Homo sapiens: one gene and its partner. Each later gene encodes a partner of the first gene's protein in a complex. Each region holds a gene or a part of one and is shown on either strand. Other genes may lie near its edges. A codon is read from its position in the direction of its gene.

The links. The genes of interacting proteins can lie anywhere in the genome.
Region 2: the proteins of SENP2 (region 1) and SUMO3 are in contact, whole or in part, in a crystal structure (PDB 2IO1), measured with the Homo sapiens proteins. Residues at the interface, in NP_067640.2 of Homo sapiens: Gln385, Asp386, Phe393, Lys394, Leu395, Arg396, Trp410, Leu411, Asn412, Asp413, Glu414, Ser439, Thr440, Phe441, Pro444, Lys445, Arg456, Trp457, Lys459, His474, Lys476, Val477, His478, Trp479, Met497, Gln499, Gln542, Asn544, Gly545, Ser546; in NP_008867.2 of Homo sapiens: Arg55, Arg58, Arg60, Phe61, Asp62, Gly63, Pro65, Asn67, Asp70, Leu75 (codon at 2,923), Asp81 (codon at 2,905), Asp84 (codon at 2,896), Phe86 (codon at 2,890), Gln87 (codon at 2,887), Gln88 (codon at 2,884), Gln89 (codon at 2,881), Thr90 (codon at 2,878), Gly91 (codon at 2,875), Gly92 (codon at 2,872), Val93 (codon at 2,869), Pro94 (codon at 2,866), Glu95 (codon at 2,863).

Annotation. Positions count from the first base shown.
Region 1 is NC_000003.12:185,580,736-185,590,169, forward strand, and holds the start of SENP2 (sentrin-specific protease 2), read left to right. Parts: upstream 1-5,559; 5' UTR 5,560-5,678; coding exon 5,679-5,779; intron 5,780-9,378; coding exon 9,379-9,434. UniProt on the Homo sapiens protein: Protease that catalyzes two essential functions in the SUMO pathway.
Region 2 is NC_000021.9:44,804,118-44,808,943, forward strand, and holds the end of SUMO3 (small ubiquitin-related modifier 3 isoform 1 precursor), read right to left. Parts: intron 2,924-4,826; coding exon 2,834-2,923; 3' UTR 1,500-2,833; downstream 1-1,499. UniProt on the Homo sapiens protein: Ubiquitin-like protein which can be covalently attached to target lysines either as a monomer or as a lysine-linked polymer. Does not seem to be involved in protein degradation and may function as an antagonist of ubiquitin in the degradation process.

The sequences.
Region 1 (9,434 bases):
ATATAAAATTTAGTTTCTTAACAACAACAGAAGAACAAAAGACAAAAGACAACAAGAGAGATCATCCTGCAAACAGCATAAGTTAACAAGATGAAAGGTAGAAGCAGAAATGTCTATTGCAACCGTGAGAAATGATCAGCCCCTATAAAAGACTGTAGTGCGGTAGGTGGCTCACACTTGTAATCTCAGCACTTTGGGAGGCTGAGGCGGGTGGACCACTTGAGGCCAGGAGTTCATGACCAGCCTGTCCAATATGGTGAAACCCTGTCTCTACAAAAAATACAAAAATTAGCTGGATGTGGTGGCGGGCACCTGTAATCCCAGCTACTCGGGAGGTTGAGGCAAGAGAATTGCTTGAACCCAGGAGGCAGAGATTGCAGTGGGCCAAGATCGCGCCACTGCACTCCAGCCTGGGTGACAGAGGGAGATTCTGTCTCAAAAACAAAAAGGAAGGACTGTAGTTCTGATAGGTTTGGAAAGAGGAATGAACAGATCTGTGAAAAATGTAGGATACAGACCAGGCAAGTTAAGATTTATTAGATATGAGAAGGAAGGAGAGGCAAGAGAAATGTTAAGCAACAGTTAGCTGTGCTGGGCACTGAATAGGCCCTTCATCTACATAAACACTTTTCTTTTTCTTTTCTTTTCTTTTCTTTTTTTTTTTTTTTTGAGAGGGAGTCTTGCTCTGATGCCCAGGCTAGAGTGCAGTGGCACGATCTCAGCTCACTGCAACCTCCGCCTCCTGGATTCAAGCGATTCTCCTGTCTCAGCCTCCAGAGTATCTGGGACTATAGGCGTGCATCACCACGCCTGGCTAATTTTTGTATTTTTTTAGTAGAGACGGAGTTTCACCATATTGGCCAGGCTGGTCTCAAACTCCTGACCTCGTGATTAGCCCGCCTCGGCGTCCCAAAGTGCTGGGATTACAGGCGTGAGCCACCGCATCCATCATCTTTTCTTTTTCTTTTTCTTTTTTCTTTTTTTTTTTTTGCGACAGTCTCCCTCTGTCGCCCAGTCTGGAGCATCGTGGTGCGATCTCGGCTCACTACAACATCGGCCTCCTGGGTACAAGCAATTCTCATGCCTCAGCCTTCTGAGTAGGCGGGATTACAGGCACCCACCACAATGCCTGGCTAAATTTTTGTGTATTTTTAGTAGAGACAGGGTTTCACTATGTTGGCCAGACTGGTCTCGAACGCCTGACCTCGTGATCCACCCGCCTCGGCCTCCCAGAGTGCTGGGATTACAGGCGTGAGCTACCGCGCCCAGCCCTCGTCTGGTACTTAAGAAAAACCTGTAATCCCAGCTATTCAGGAGGCTGAGGCAGGGGAATCGTGTGAACCCGGGAGGCGGAGGTTGCAGTGAGCCAAGATCGTGCCACTGCACTCCAGCCTGGGTGACAGAATGAGACTCCGTCTCCAAAAAAAAAAAAAAAAAAAAAAAAAGTACCAGAAGAGTTGGTACCTAGAAAGAAATTAATCTACAGAGTGGTGAATTATGTTGGATTTTAGGCACATTAGGCCTAACCCGACACAACCTCCTCTAGGGGCCCTTACCCTTTCCAACAAATGGCCTAGAATTCTTTTCTGTCCAGGGGTCAGGAAAAACAAAGTTGAGAAGAAGTTTGTTAAAGTTCTCTGAATGCTTTAAAAGGGGAAATTTGCAAGACTAAAGAATGGATTGGAGGGGAGGTAGGTTTGGAGGAAGAAGGGGGTGGGGCCCTGAAAAGGCTTCAAGGAGCTGCTCTGAGCTGAAAGGGGATAAGGATCTTCTTGGAGAACTGGGGCATCTGATTGGAACACCTGCGAAAGCTTAAGCGATGAGGTTGTGCCCCTCTTGCAGTACAAGGCTGCAAATTATCCAAGCCAAGGGCAGAAATCTCAATGTCCTTGTTACTCCATATGGCCTTGGGATTCTCCCATGGCCCTCCAGTAAAGCGCTGCTAGGTCCCGGAAAGGCTGTGGCAGTGGTGGGGTTGGGGTTAAGGATAATCCCACTCCTTGGCCAGTGGATGGACAGTCACCCATGTCTCTACTGTGGACCACAGGACAGCGAAGGCACCAACTGGCAGACAAGTCCCAGGTGGGAGCGAGTATAAGGATGCGTCTCCTTTTCTTCCTTCTAGAGGGTAACTAGGGGGATATGGAGGGAGCATGCACGGTGGGAGGCTGAGGATTGCCACATTCGATTCATGAGTTATTGTTTGCTGATGGGGTCCTGAGATTCTGACTGAGATCTGTAATTCTGAAGCCTTCTCACTCTTCCTGGCAGATGGCCAATGTTTCAGTATTGAGTTTGTAAGGGTGCTATTTATGAGGCAGGAAAAGAAAAAAAAAAATGTGTTGTTGTGTTGCACCGCAGGGCTATCAAGTGTGACCCCAATATATTTCTTTCTTTTTCTTTTTTTTTTTTTTTTTGAGACTATAAATCTCACTCTGTCACTTAGGCTGGAGTGCAGTGGTGAAATCACAACTCACTGCAGCCTTGACTCCCACCTCAGCCTCCCAAGTAGCTGGGACTACAGGCACATGCCACCACTCTTGGCCAATTAAAAAAAAATTTTTTTTAGAGACAGGTCTCCCTGTGTTGCCCAGGCTGGTCTCAAACTCCCTGGCTCAAGTGATCATTCTGCCTGGACCTCCCGAAGTGCTGGGATTACAGGTGTGAGTCACCACACCTAGCTTACCACAGTATTTCTTAAATCTCAGTGGCCAGACCTGGGATAAGTTGCTATTCAAAAGCAGCTTGTAGGTTTTTTGTTTTGTTTTGTTTTGTTTTTGAGACAGAGTCTCGCTCTGTCGCCAGGCTGGAGTGCAGTGGCGTGATCTCGGCTTACTGCAACCTCCGCCTCCCGGGTTCAAGTGATTCTCCTGCCTCAGCCTCCCAAGTAGCTGGGATTACGGGCACGCGCCACCACGCCCAGTTAATTTTTAGTAGAGATGGGGTTTCACCATGTTGGCCAGGATGGTCTCGATCTCTTGACCTCGTGATCCGCCTGCCGCGGCCTCCCAAAGTGCTGGGATTACAGGCATGAACCACCGTGCCTGGCAGAGCTTGTAGTTTTCTGATTTATGTGTGTGTGTGTTTTTTAACTTGGAAAAAAAAATTGTTCTCTTAGGATGTATGATTCGTGTTTAAATGAAGACTGCTCTTTTATTTGGGAGAATCCTCTCCCAGTACTTGAGCGGGCTTCTTGGTTTGGCAAAGGCAAAGCCCAACTCTCAATAGTGAGTGGAAGGGACAGACGTAACTGAACTGCTTTGCACAATAATGCCAATGACTGTCTTTTGTTAATAGGAGTCCTGACTCTTGATTACATTTACGGGGAGTCCAGCCTGAAATAGTCGGGGTAGAGGTAGAGGGAAAAGTCCCTTCTGTTGGCAGCTTGCCAAAGGTGTTACGAGTAAAGGGATGGCCTTGAGGTGAAGGGAATTCCTTTGCGAGACAATAGGCCAGGGACTATAGATGCTACATAATCTAATAGCCACTTCTAAGTCTTCTCAGCTTTGTAATGCCCCAAACTTTCAGCAACAGCCTGGTTGGTGTTTGCTATGCTTAGGGGAATAAGGGAGGCGGGTGTGTCCACACTTAGGATTTGCTTCCATCCTCTAGGATATGACCCCAGCCCCCGAGGCCAGAGTGGTGGTAGCTTCAGGTGTGTGGCTGGTGATTCTGAAGCTCTAGGGGGTGGCTTGCAGCACAATTCTGGAATGCTACATATATATATATATATATATATATATATATATATATATATATATACACACATACACACACACACACACACATACACACACACATGTATTTATTTTATTTATTTATTTTTTGAGACAGAGTCTTGCTCTGTTGCCTAGGCTGGAGTGCAGTGGTGCAATCTCCGCTTACTGCAACCTCCACCTCCCAGGTTCAAGCGATTCTCCTGCCTCAGCCTTCCAAGTAGCTGGGATTACAGGAGTGTACTACCATGCCTGGCTAATTTTTGTATTTTTTTTTTTAGTAGAGATGGGGTTGTCTCACCATGTTGGCCAGGCTGGTCTTGAACTCCTGTCCTCAAGTGATCCGCCTGCCTTGGCATCCCAAAATGCTGGGATTACAGGCGTGTGCCACCACACCCGGCCTGGAATGCTGTCTATTGAGGAAAGGAAGAGGCTGTACTGGGGAGTGCCAGCGTTGAAGTTCAAGCAAGTGTAAAACTCTGGCCTTAACTGAATCACAAGTAGGAAACAAGTTAATCAGGAATGGATTTGTGGGGCATGAAAACCTTTGAGGATTCTTAGGATTGTTTGGAAGAGGGGACTGGATTTTCTATCACTAAATAGGGTGGGATTTGTTTTACAGTTGATAATTTTTTGATGGGGTGCGTCAGGGTCCCACTCTGTCACCCTGGCTGGAGTGCAGTGGCGTGATCACGACTCACTGCAGTCTCAACCTCCTGGGCTCAAGTGATCGTCTCACCTCAGCCTACCAAGTAGTTGGGACTACAGGTGCGTGCCACCACACCCGGCTAATTTTTGTATTTTTTGTAAAGATGGGGTTTTACTATGTTGCACAGACTGGTCTCAAACTCCTGGGCTCAAGCTATCTGCCCACCTCAGCCTCCCAAAGTGCTGGGATTAAAGGCAGGAGCCACCGCGCCCGGCCTATAGTTGACAATTAACTAGAAGTGTGACATTGGAATTATAGAGGGAGAGTAACGAGACTCATTACTTACTAGCCCAGGGTAGGAGACATTAGTGGGCCGCAGGTTTCATCCTTAAATTTCTGTGAAGCCTTTCTTGAGGACATCTGCCCTTTCCTTCTCTCCCTCAGTGTGTGGTTTTCCTTTCTCTGGCTCCCACTGCACTCTGCACATACCTTTATCACAGCAACCACTTACGGTGTATTGTAATTTGTAATTATCTATGTACATGTCTCCAAGTAGACTGACCTCAAGGGCGAGGGACTGGCGCTGGTACTCAGACCCCGGGTTCAAGTTCCAGCCACGTCTCTAGCTAGTTTTGTGATCTTAGACAAATAACTTAATCGCTCTATGCCTCAATTTCCTTGACTTATAAAACTGGCTTAAGACTCTCTGTCACACGCCATTGCTGGGCATATTAAGGTGACAATGCGTGAAAAGTACGAGGCAAAAGGTAAGTGCAAAATAAAGGGCGCCTAAAACGGTAAACGTGTGTTAATTAACCTGATCTACCTTTACATGTGCATTCAGCAAACACTGAGCACCTAATGTCCTCTGGGACCCCGGAACGCCTCCTCCGGAGTGGAGCAGCCTCACATGTGGCCTGTGGGCCTTGTCCCACGGGCCGGCTCCGGATTGGCTCCGCCGAAGAGAAAACCCTGCCGACAGCCCTTCCGATCTCGTCAGCGATTGGGCCGGGACCGTCCCACAATTACTCTTGTTGCTGGGCTCGGAAATAGGGAGCGGTGCTAGGTTGCGCGTGCGCAGATTGAGAATGGAGCTTTCCGGTCGGGCGGGAGGAGGTGACGTCAGGAGTGGTGGCGGGCGGGGGCCTCTGGTAGCCCTGGGGACGCTGTATCTGTGGGCTCTTGAATCGCGTCACAAATCAGCGACCGAACTCTGGCGGTGGTGGTTAAGACGGCGAAGGCGGCAGCGGCGGCGACAGCTCTGGGGTTTGCGTCTCGGGGTGTGTCGGCCGCCGCTGCTGCTTGGGCCTGGTATGTACAGATGGCTGGTTAGGATTCTCGGCACCATTTTCCGTTTCTGCGACCGGTCGGTGCCCCCTGCCCGGGCCCTCCTGAAGAGGCGGCGCTCAGACAGGTGAGACGAGAGGGGGCTGAGCGCCAGCCTGGCCTTACCCCCTCCCCCACAGCGGGCTCCTCGGCCGTGATAGCTTTGATTCAGCCAGGCTCACCCGAAACAGGTCGCCGGGATCCTAGTGACGTAGTCGCTCCCGCCAGGCTGTAGGGAGGCAGCTCCTGATGAAGGAGGAGCTGGTCGTCTTCGTAGCGGCCGGTGATGGCAGGGTCTTTGACATTCTTGTCAGAGGCCAAGCTGGTTGCTGATAACAAATGGGGCTTTGCCGCTCTTAGGCTGAACACTAACATTGAAGGAATACTGTCTTTGTTGTGGCTCACTGTTTACAAAGCACCCTCGCAAGTGTCATCTGCAGACATTAAGTGCAGTTGAAGTGAGATTCATAGCTTGCCCAAAGCCGTTTTGACTGCAAGTACTGTCCTTGCAGCAAGAAACAGCACCTGTTTTGTTCCAAAACAGCTGTCAAACAGTCTGTGTGTTTGGGGCCAGAAGGGTTTTGTGCTTTAGAATTAGTGAATGAGTAAAAAGGCTTAGGTGCCTCACTCCTTTAAAACAATCACTAGTCTGTACTCTTAAATTCGGTTAAAATTTGGGGGAAACGCAAAGCTATTCTTTTCTTTTTTTCTTTTTCTTTTGGTTGAGACGGAGTCTTGCTCTGTCGCCCAGGCTGGAGTGCAGTGGTGCGATCTCGGCTTACCGCAACCTCCGCCTCCTGGGTTCAAGCGATTCCCCTGCCTCAGCCTCCCAAGTAGCTGGGATTGCAGGTGTGCACCACCACGCCTGGCTAATTTTTGTGTTTTTAGTAGAGATGGGGTTTCACTATATTGGCTAGGCTGGCCTTGAACTCCTGACCTCAAGTGATCCGCCCACCCCAGCCTTTGGAAGTGCTGGGACTGCAGGCATGAGCCACTGCACTCAGCCCCAAAAGCTATTCTTATTTAGCATCTACTCTTTGGAGTGTCCCATTTTATTGTATCGACCTCCTTACCTAAAAATCTGGAAAATAAAATACTATACAAATTCTATGCCCCCTCTTCAACTTTAGTGATCAAGTGTTAATTTTTTTTTTTTTTGAGAAGGAGTCTCGCTCTGTCCCCCAGGCTGGAGTGCAGTGGCGCAATCTCGGCTCACTGCAAGCTCTGCCTCCGGGAGTCACGCCATTCTCCTGCCTCAGCCTCCCCAGTAGCTGGGACTACAGGCGCCCGCCACCATGCCCGGCTATTTTTTTTTTTTTTTTTTTTGAGACAGAGTCTCATTTTGTTGCCCAGGCTGAAGTGCGGTGGCACGATCTCAGCTCACTGCAACCTCTGCCCACTGGGTTCAGGCGATTCTTCTGCCTCAGCCTCCGGAATAGCTGGGATTACAGGCGCCTGCCACTGCACCCGGCTTATATTTTTTGTATTTTTTTTAGTAGAGACGGGGTTTCACCATCTTGGCCAGGCTAGTCTTGAACTCCTGACCTCGTGATCCACCCGCCTCAGCCTCCCAAAGTGCTGGGATTACAGGCCTGAGCCACAGCGCCCGGCCACTACCGGCTAATTTTTTTTTTTTTTTTTTTTTTTTTGAGGCGGAGTCTCGCTCTGTCGCCCAGGCTGGAGTGCAATGGCGCGATCTCGGCTCACTGCAACCTCCGCCTTCCAGGTTCACGCCTTTCTCCTGCCTCAGCCTCCCGAGTAGCTGGGACTACAGGCGCCCGCCACCACGCCCAGCTAATTTTTTGTATTTTTAGTAGAGACGGGGTTTCACCGTGGTCTCGATCTCCTGACCTCAGGATCCGCCCGTCTCGGTCTCCCAGAGTGCTGGGATTACAGGCGTGAGCCACCGCGCCCGGCCCTCGCCCGACTAATTTTTTGTATTTTTTAGTAGAGACGGGGTTTCACCGTGTTAGCCAGGATGGTCTGGATCTCCTGACCTCGTGATCCACCCGCCTCGGCCTCCCAAAATGCTGGGACTACAGACGTGAGCCACCGGGCCCGGCCGTTAATTTCATTTTTTAAATTAAGCCTCAATATCAAGAAAAGTGGAAGAAGTGTTCATTTGTGGGAGCTTGAGAGAACAAGATGTCTAATACATTAGTCTGAGAATGCAGGTTATTGATGAGATTGGTTGTTGGCTAAATTGCATCGTGTGTTCCAGAGATACATGGTTTTGCCTTATTTTTCTCTCCTATCTTTCCGTTGGGTTGATATAAGGATCATTTGAGAACGTGGTGTAAAGTGCCTAAACTGATGCTTAATGTATATAAGGGTAGTATTTGTCTGTCCTACTCTGGGGCCTTTTGCAGAGTCTGGTGCATGATAAGCACTTGGTCCCTATTTATGGAATAAGGGAAAGCTAATTTCCTCTCCCTTGTCCTCTCCTTGATGTGAATCCCTGCTAGTCAGTGGAACATGGTTTGGCGATCAAAACCTTGATCTTTACTATACTTTAGGTGTTCACATCCTTAATCCAAAACAACACTTCTCAGTGTAAACCAATTTTCAGTCAAAATGAAGCCCGGCAGGGCTTGTTGGAATGTATAAAGTTATGAGCTGAATGGAATCCTGGGATCTCATTCTATTCATTTTTTTTTTTTGCATGTGTGAATATAATTGATCATAAGGGTTCAGAGAGATGATGAGTAATATACTATGACCCTTTAGCATTCTTGACATCTGGGTCCTGAAACTTTCCTCAATTCCAAAGTTCTTTATTACCATCATAATGTAGTTTGCGTGATAAAAATGAAGTTAAATATAACACTTGATTAAGATTTGTCTTTTTTAAGTTGTAGAACAGTTTTTTTTAACTCCCTTACACACACACAAAAGAAAAAACAGTAAAAAAGAATTGTCTTTTAAGGCTGTTCATATTAATACTGTCACCTAAAGTAAAAGATGGCTTTCTTTGGGGATCATTTTCAAAAGGAAATTGCTTGTTTGTTGTTTTTAAATCATTTCTGGAGCGAAAGAGAAAATACTGTCCTAAACTCTTACCTGGGTTCATTTACTAGCTAAGTGACTTTGGCCAGTTTTAAGTTTGTACTTTAACCAGATGGCAAATTATTATTTGGTAAGAAGTTTGTTTCTCTCTCAAATAGTTGAAACTGTAGCAGTAAGTCTTCGCATGTGAAAAGCCTACTATAGAATAGCATTCTCTCTTTTGTTTTGCTTTTATTTTTAGTTTTATTTCTTTTTAAAACAAGGTCTCACTCTTTTGATTAGGCTGGAGTGCAGTGGCATGACCTGGGCTCACTGCAGCCTTACTTCCTGGGCTCAAGTGATCCTCCTGCCTTAGTGTAGCTGGGACCACACTCACTTACCACCAAGGCTGGCTAATTTTTTATTTATTTTTTTATCGTAGAGATGAGGTCTTACTTTGTTGCCCAGGCTGATGTCAAACTCCAAGGCTCAAGCGATCCTCCCCCTTGGCCTCCCAAAGTGCTGGGATTACAGGCACGAGCCACTGTGTCCCACCAGCATTCTCTTTTAAAACATCAGTTGGATCTCATTTTATGACAAAGTGATAGAAGGGGGATGTGTTATATGAATAGTAAGTTTACTTACAGAAATGAATGTGTGTGTAAATCTATATATATATATTTTTTTCTTTCTCTTTTTCAGCACTCTGTTTTCTACAGTGGACACTGATGAAATACCAGCCAAAAGACCAAGATTAG
Region 2 (4,826 bases), on another chromosome or scaffold:
GAAATATAAAAAGGACCTCACAGCTTAACCCATGTTATACGGTGGGGTTTTCCCATGAACATCACGCGTTTCCAGCTGGGCACTCCTGCAGCATGGCTAAGATGACAACTCAAGTTCCCTGGGAGTGGGGGTTCCTGGGATGTGAACCTTTCGGTGCAAAAACTGGAGAAGTTCCAGTTGGGACCCCAGGCATAGATACTAGGATAAATAGGGCCTCTCTCCTCCAGGAGCATCAATTTAACCCAAAGATTCTTGGAGTCAGTTTCACATAAGTAATCTTGTTGAAAATAGTAATCCCAACAGATCTATTTTTCCAAATGCACCATTTGCATAAATCTCAGAAAAAAGACAACTTCAAGAACATACCTTTGCTGGGCACCATGGCTCATGCCTGTAATCCCAACTACTTGGCAGGCTGAGGCACGAGGATCACTTGAGGCCAGGAGTCTGAGATCAGCTTGGGCAACTGATTTATGGTTTGGATTTGTGTCCATGCCCTTCCTCTTCTGCCATGATTATAAGTTTCCTGAGGCCTCCCTAGCCATGCTTCCTGTACAGCCTACAGAACTATGAGTCAATTAAACCTCTTTTCTTTATAAATTACCCAGTCTCAGGTAGTTCTTTATAGTAATGTGAGGATGCACTAATACAGCAATATAGTGAGAGCTCCATCTCTACAAATCTTTTTTAGAAAGACAGGACATCCTGCTGGTTCTGCTGTGAGGTGTTGTGGGTGGAAGTTCAAGCAGCGCTGCCCTAATACATCCACATATGCTCCTGGCCATTATTCTTATCTAACCTACGGTGCCTGGGACACATCCCTTTCCTCATTGATTTTGGCAGCCGCTTCGCCCCAGGCTGCCTAGGGAATCTGGCAGATGTCCCCATCCTGTATTGTGCCTTAATCCGTGCACTCTTCCTGGTGCAAGTGAATCACGTGTTCCATCTCCACAGCTGCCCATCTTTCTTCACCTTGGGTTCATTCAACTGATGGGCTAAAACAGCTCATTTTCAACCTGGGTTTTGTTACACCACTGCACACTGGGAAATTCTTAAAGCCAAATCAATGTCAGTTCAGTTTCAAAGCAGATAGGTAAGTTGTCCATGGCAGAAGGAAAGCTGACTTACATTCAAACACCAGAAAACGAGAGATGTCCTAGACTAACACCCAAGCTCACCTGCCTCTAAAATCCACCCTTTCTTTACATACGAAACCCAGGAGAGGGAGGGTAACATGTCACAGTGATGCCAGCTCAGACAGCTGTCAGCCAGGAGGTCTCTGAGGAGAGGATGCATCCCTCAGCAGGAAGAAGGCTGGACTAGCATTGGTGATGTGCCAGGGGAGGGGAAATGAGCTGCCAGGCGAATACTAACCTTCCAGCGGCTAGCTTTTCAATCAAAGTTTCTCAGTGCAGTGGCTGCCTGGAATGGTCAATTCAAACACTGAATTGTACCAGTATGCCCCAACCTTCAAATGCAGTGTTTAGTAGAAGCCAAGAGACAGAATACCAAACTATATTTACTGTTTACAGTAGTAAAGGACAACAAATAATGTACAAATTGGTGAATAAACACAACAGAGCCAACAAACATCCCACCCGAGCCCATACAGCAAACAGGAAATGAGAACATTTCAGCAAGATTTCAAGCAAGCAAGAGATGATGGGTCATTGTTCAGGTGACTGTAAAAAGGCAGAGAATGGCCACCAAGCAGCAATGGAGCCTCAGGGAAGGACAATAGGCAGAACTATGAAAATGTTTAATTGGTATAGATCCCAAAATATTTCACAGAACTGAAATCACCAGACTAATGCATAAATTCAATACCTATTTGGAAAGCAGCACGGCACAAACCCACGAGAAGAACATGAAGTCATCATTCCATGGGTTCATTTGTAACCACACTTGGAAGTAGCTCTTATACACGACAACATAACTGCAAATTCAGCAATACTTAGTCTTACTTTTTTATGTATAGACCATAATCATTCATCAGAAGCAAATACTAGAAGAAATCTGAGGCCACAACACCATTACCAAATGAGAAATGTGGGAATTTCTTCAATATTAAGAGGGAGAAAAAGGCCAATTTTGGTTGTGCCAATCCTTGCCTGTGTACCAACGCCAGGTACTGAGCAGGGAGTGGGGTGGGAGGGGTGGCAGGGGGGTGGGTCCTGGGCCTCAGACCCCGAGGTTACATGCTTGAGGGCCAGAGAGCACGTGGGGTCAAATTACCAAAAGACTCGGTTATTTTTTAACCTTTGAAGAAGCATTCCAGTATTTTCCCTTCAACTTTTCCATATACTGACAAAGCTTAAATTTGCAATATTTAGCATTTTAATCACCTGTGCCTGTAACAGCAAGTGACAGTCTGTCCTCCCTACCAACCTTGCCCCCAATACCTGTCCAACAGCTGCATCCCCACTGCGGGAAACACCAATTCTCTATGTGACTGGAGTGAGCAGGGGAGAGGCAACCAACTCAGGAGTCAGATCCCTGGCCAGACTAAAAGCGAACATTCAGGCTATAATTTTGGGGTTAAAAAAATGTTGTAGGAGGGGGGGAAAACACAAATGAGCACACAAAAGTACCCACAATATCTTGCAACTCATTTTACCTGAACAAAGATAACAATTCTGATTGGCCCAATTTAAGTTACAGATTCATCCCTGCAGATATAGTTTTGAGTTGCACTTGAAGTACATCAAAGAGAGGAAAATCATCGTGGTGAATGTCCTCGAGTTTCCGCAGACACCTTTGTGGTCGGCATGGTCACGTGCTCACCATTCAACAGCAATGCGAGGATGGACGGCCCGGGCTGGGGACGGGCCCTCTAGAAACTGTGCCCTGCCAGGCTGCTCTCCGGCACACCTCCCGTCTGCTGCTGGAACACGTCGATGGTGTCCTCGTCCTCCATCTCCAGCTGTCATGGTTGTCACAACAGGCACAGCGAGAGAGAGGGGAGCCTGTTAGTTTTCATCAGAGAGTGGGAAGATCCTCACTGGCATGAGTGTTCCCTGACACTAGCGACATCACCTGGTCACACCTTGGCTCTTGTCCGTCCCCTCACTGCAGCTCAGCACGCATGGAAGAGGCATTGCTGTATGCTCACTACAGCCCTTACGGTTCAACAAGCTTCCCCTAACAAAACTCACAAAAGCAGATTCAAAGCTAAAATGTTAACTGAGAGAAAAACTGAGTCTAGAAGATAAACTGAAATGTCTAAAATTCTTACTGAAAATTACACAAAATCAGATTCTAATTAAGAACATCTGATTAGCAGCACTGAGTCCTAGGACCCACAGGAGCCTTGCGCTTTATACCAAGTGCGGGGGACCATGCCATGAAAGCCAAAGCCCCCAGCTCACAGAAGGGCCCGTCAAGTGAGGGTCCATTGCCAGCTTCTCCCCGCCCCTCCCCATTTAAAGCCCAGGCAAGGTAGTGAAACACCCCCGCTCACTTCTCTCCTCCTGACACAGTGGGCGCAAAACACCCACCCTGATCTTCTTCCATCCTCTAAGCAAGAGGAAGCTTCTGCCAGTTCCTACACAGACTCAGCAAGGCTGGAAGTAGTCATGCTCCCAGATGGAAAGGAGTCCCATCAGGGCTGTCGGCCACCCTCACCCTGCCACCGACACTATGGGCTGGAGGGAGAGCCCCCAGGCAGGGCTCCCTCTGCCTCTCGGTCCACCTGTCCACAGCCAGCCCCCTGACCCCCAGTCAAGCCCCAGAGACTCCACGAGGCCCTCCCTGCTCAGCTGCTCTCAGCAGCTTCTCCCTGGTGAACACTCCCAGAGCTGCCACTGCCTCAGCGGTGTGTAGGTTTCCTCAAGTAGGTACAAATGGATACTTGTTGCAAAGATGTTTTCAATATTTATTAAATACTGAATAGTAAATATTTAAAATCTTAAATGTTTTGCAAAAATATTTCCACATAAAACATTCCAGTGGATTCTCACAACATTGAAAGGGAGAAAAAGCAGGTATTGGTTCCATTTATGGACAGACAAAACTGAGACTCCACAAGATGAAGTGATGCTTGGTCACGGGGCCATCAGCTGACAAATGACAAGAGCTGCAACTTGAACCAAGTTTAAAAAAAAACTCTGTTTCGGCCGGGCGCGTTGGCTCATGCCTTTAATCCCAGCACTTTGGGGGGCTGAGGTGGGCAGATCACAAGGTCAGGAGATCGAGACCATCCTGGCTAACATGGTGAAACCCCGTCTCTACTAAAAATACAAAAAAATTAGCCGGGAGTGGTGGTGGGCACCTATAGTCCCAGCTACTTGGGAGGCTGAGGCAGGAGAATGGCGTGAACTCAGGAGGCAGAGCTTGCACAGTGAGCTGAGACTGCGCCACTGCATTCTAGCCTGGGCAACAAAGCGAGACTCCGTCTCAAAAAAAAAAGTCTGTTTCCAGGTCCAAAGCTCTTTCCATGACAGTATGATGCCCTGCAACGTGATAGATGAAATCTCATTCATGTCTGCATGTGCCTGAGAGAAACGAGCTGTGCAGACTGATAATCAGGGGTTATGGCACATTCTGCCCACCCACGTCACTTGTGCAAGATGCTTAAAGGGCACAAGAATCCAGCTGGCCCCTAAGCTGCACACGGGCTACAACAGCAAGCGTCCAGACAATGAGTGGGAAGGGGCCGCTGAGTGGTCCTTGCACCCCCGCTTCCCTTACAGTGAGGACGGGCCCAGCACTTGGCTCCATCTCCAAACAGCAAGAATGATGTCTGCAAAGCAGTTTTCTCATTTGAAAATTTAAATTTAAAATGTGAAAAATAAATAATCTAATAATCAATATCATTAAGGCATTCT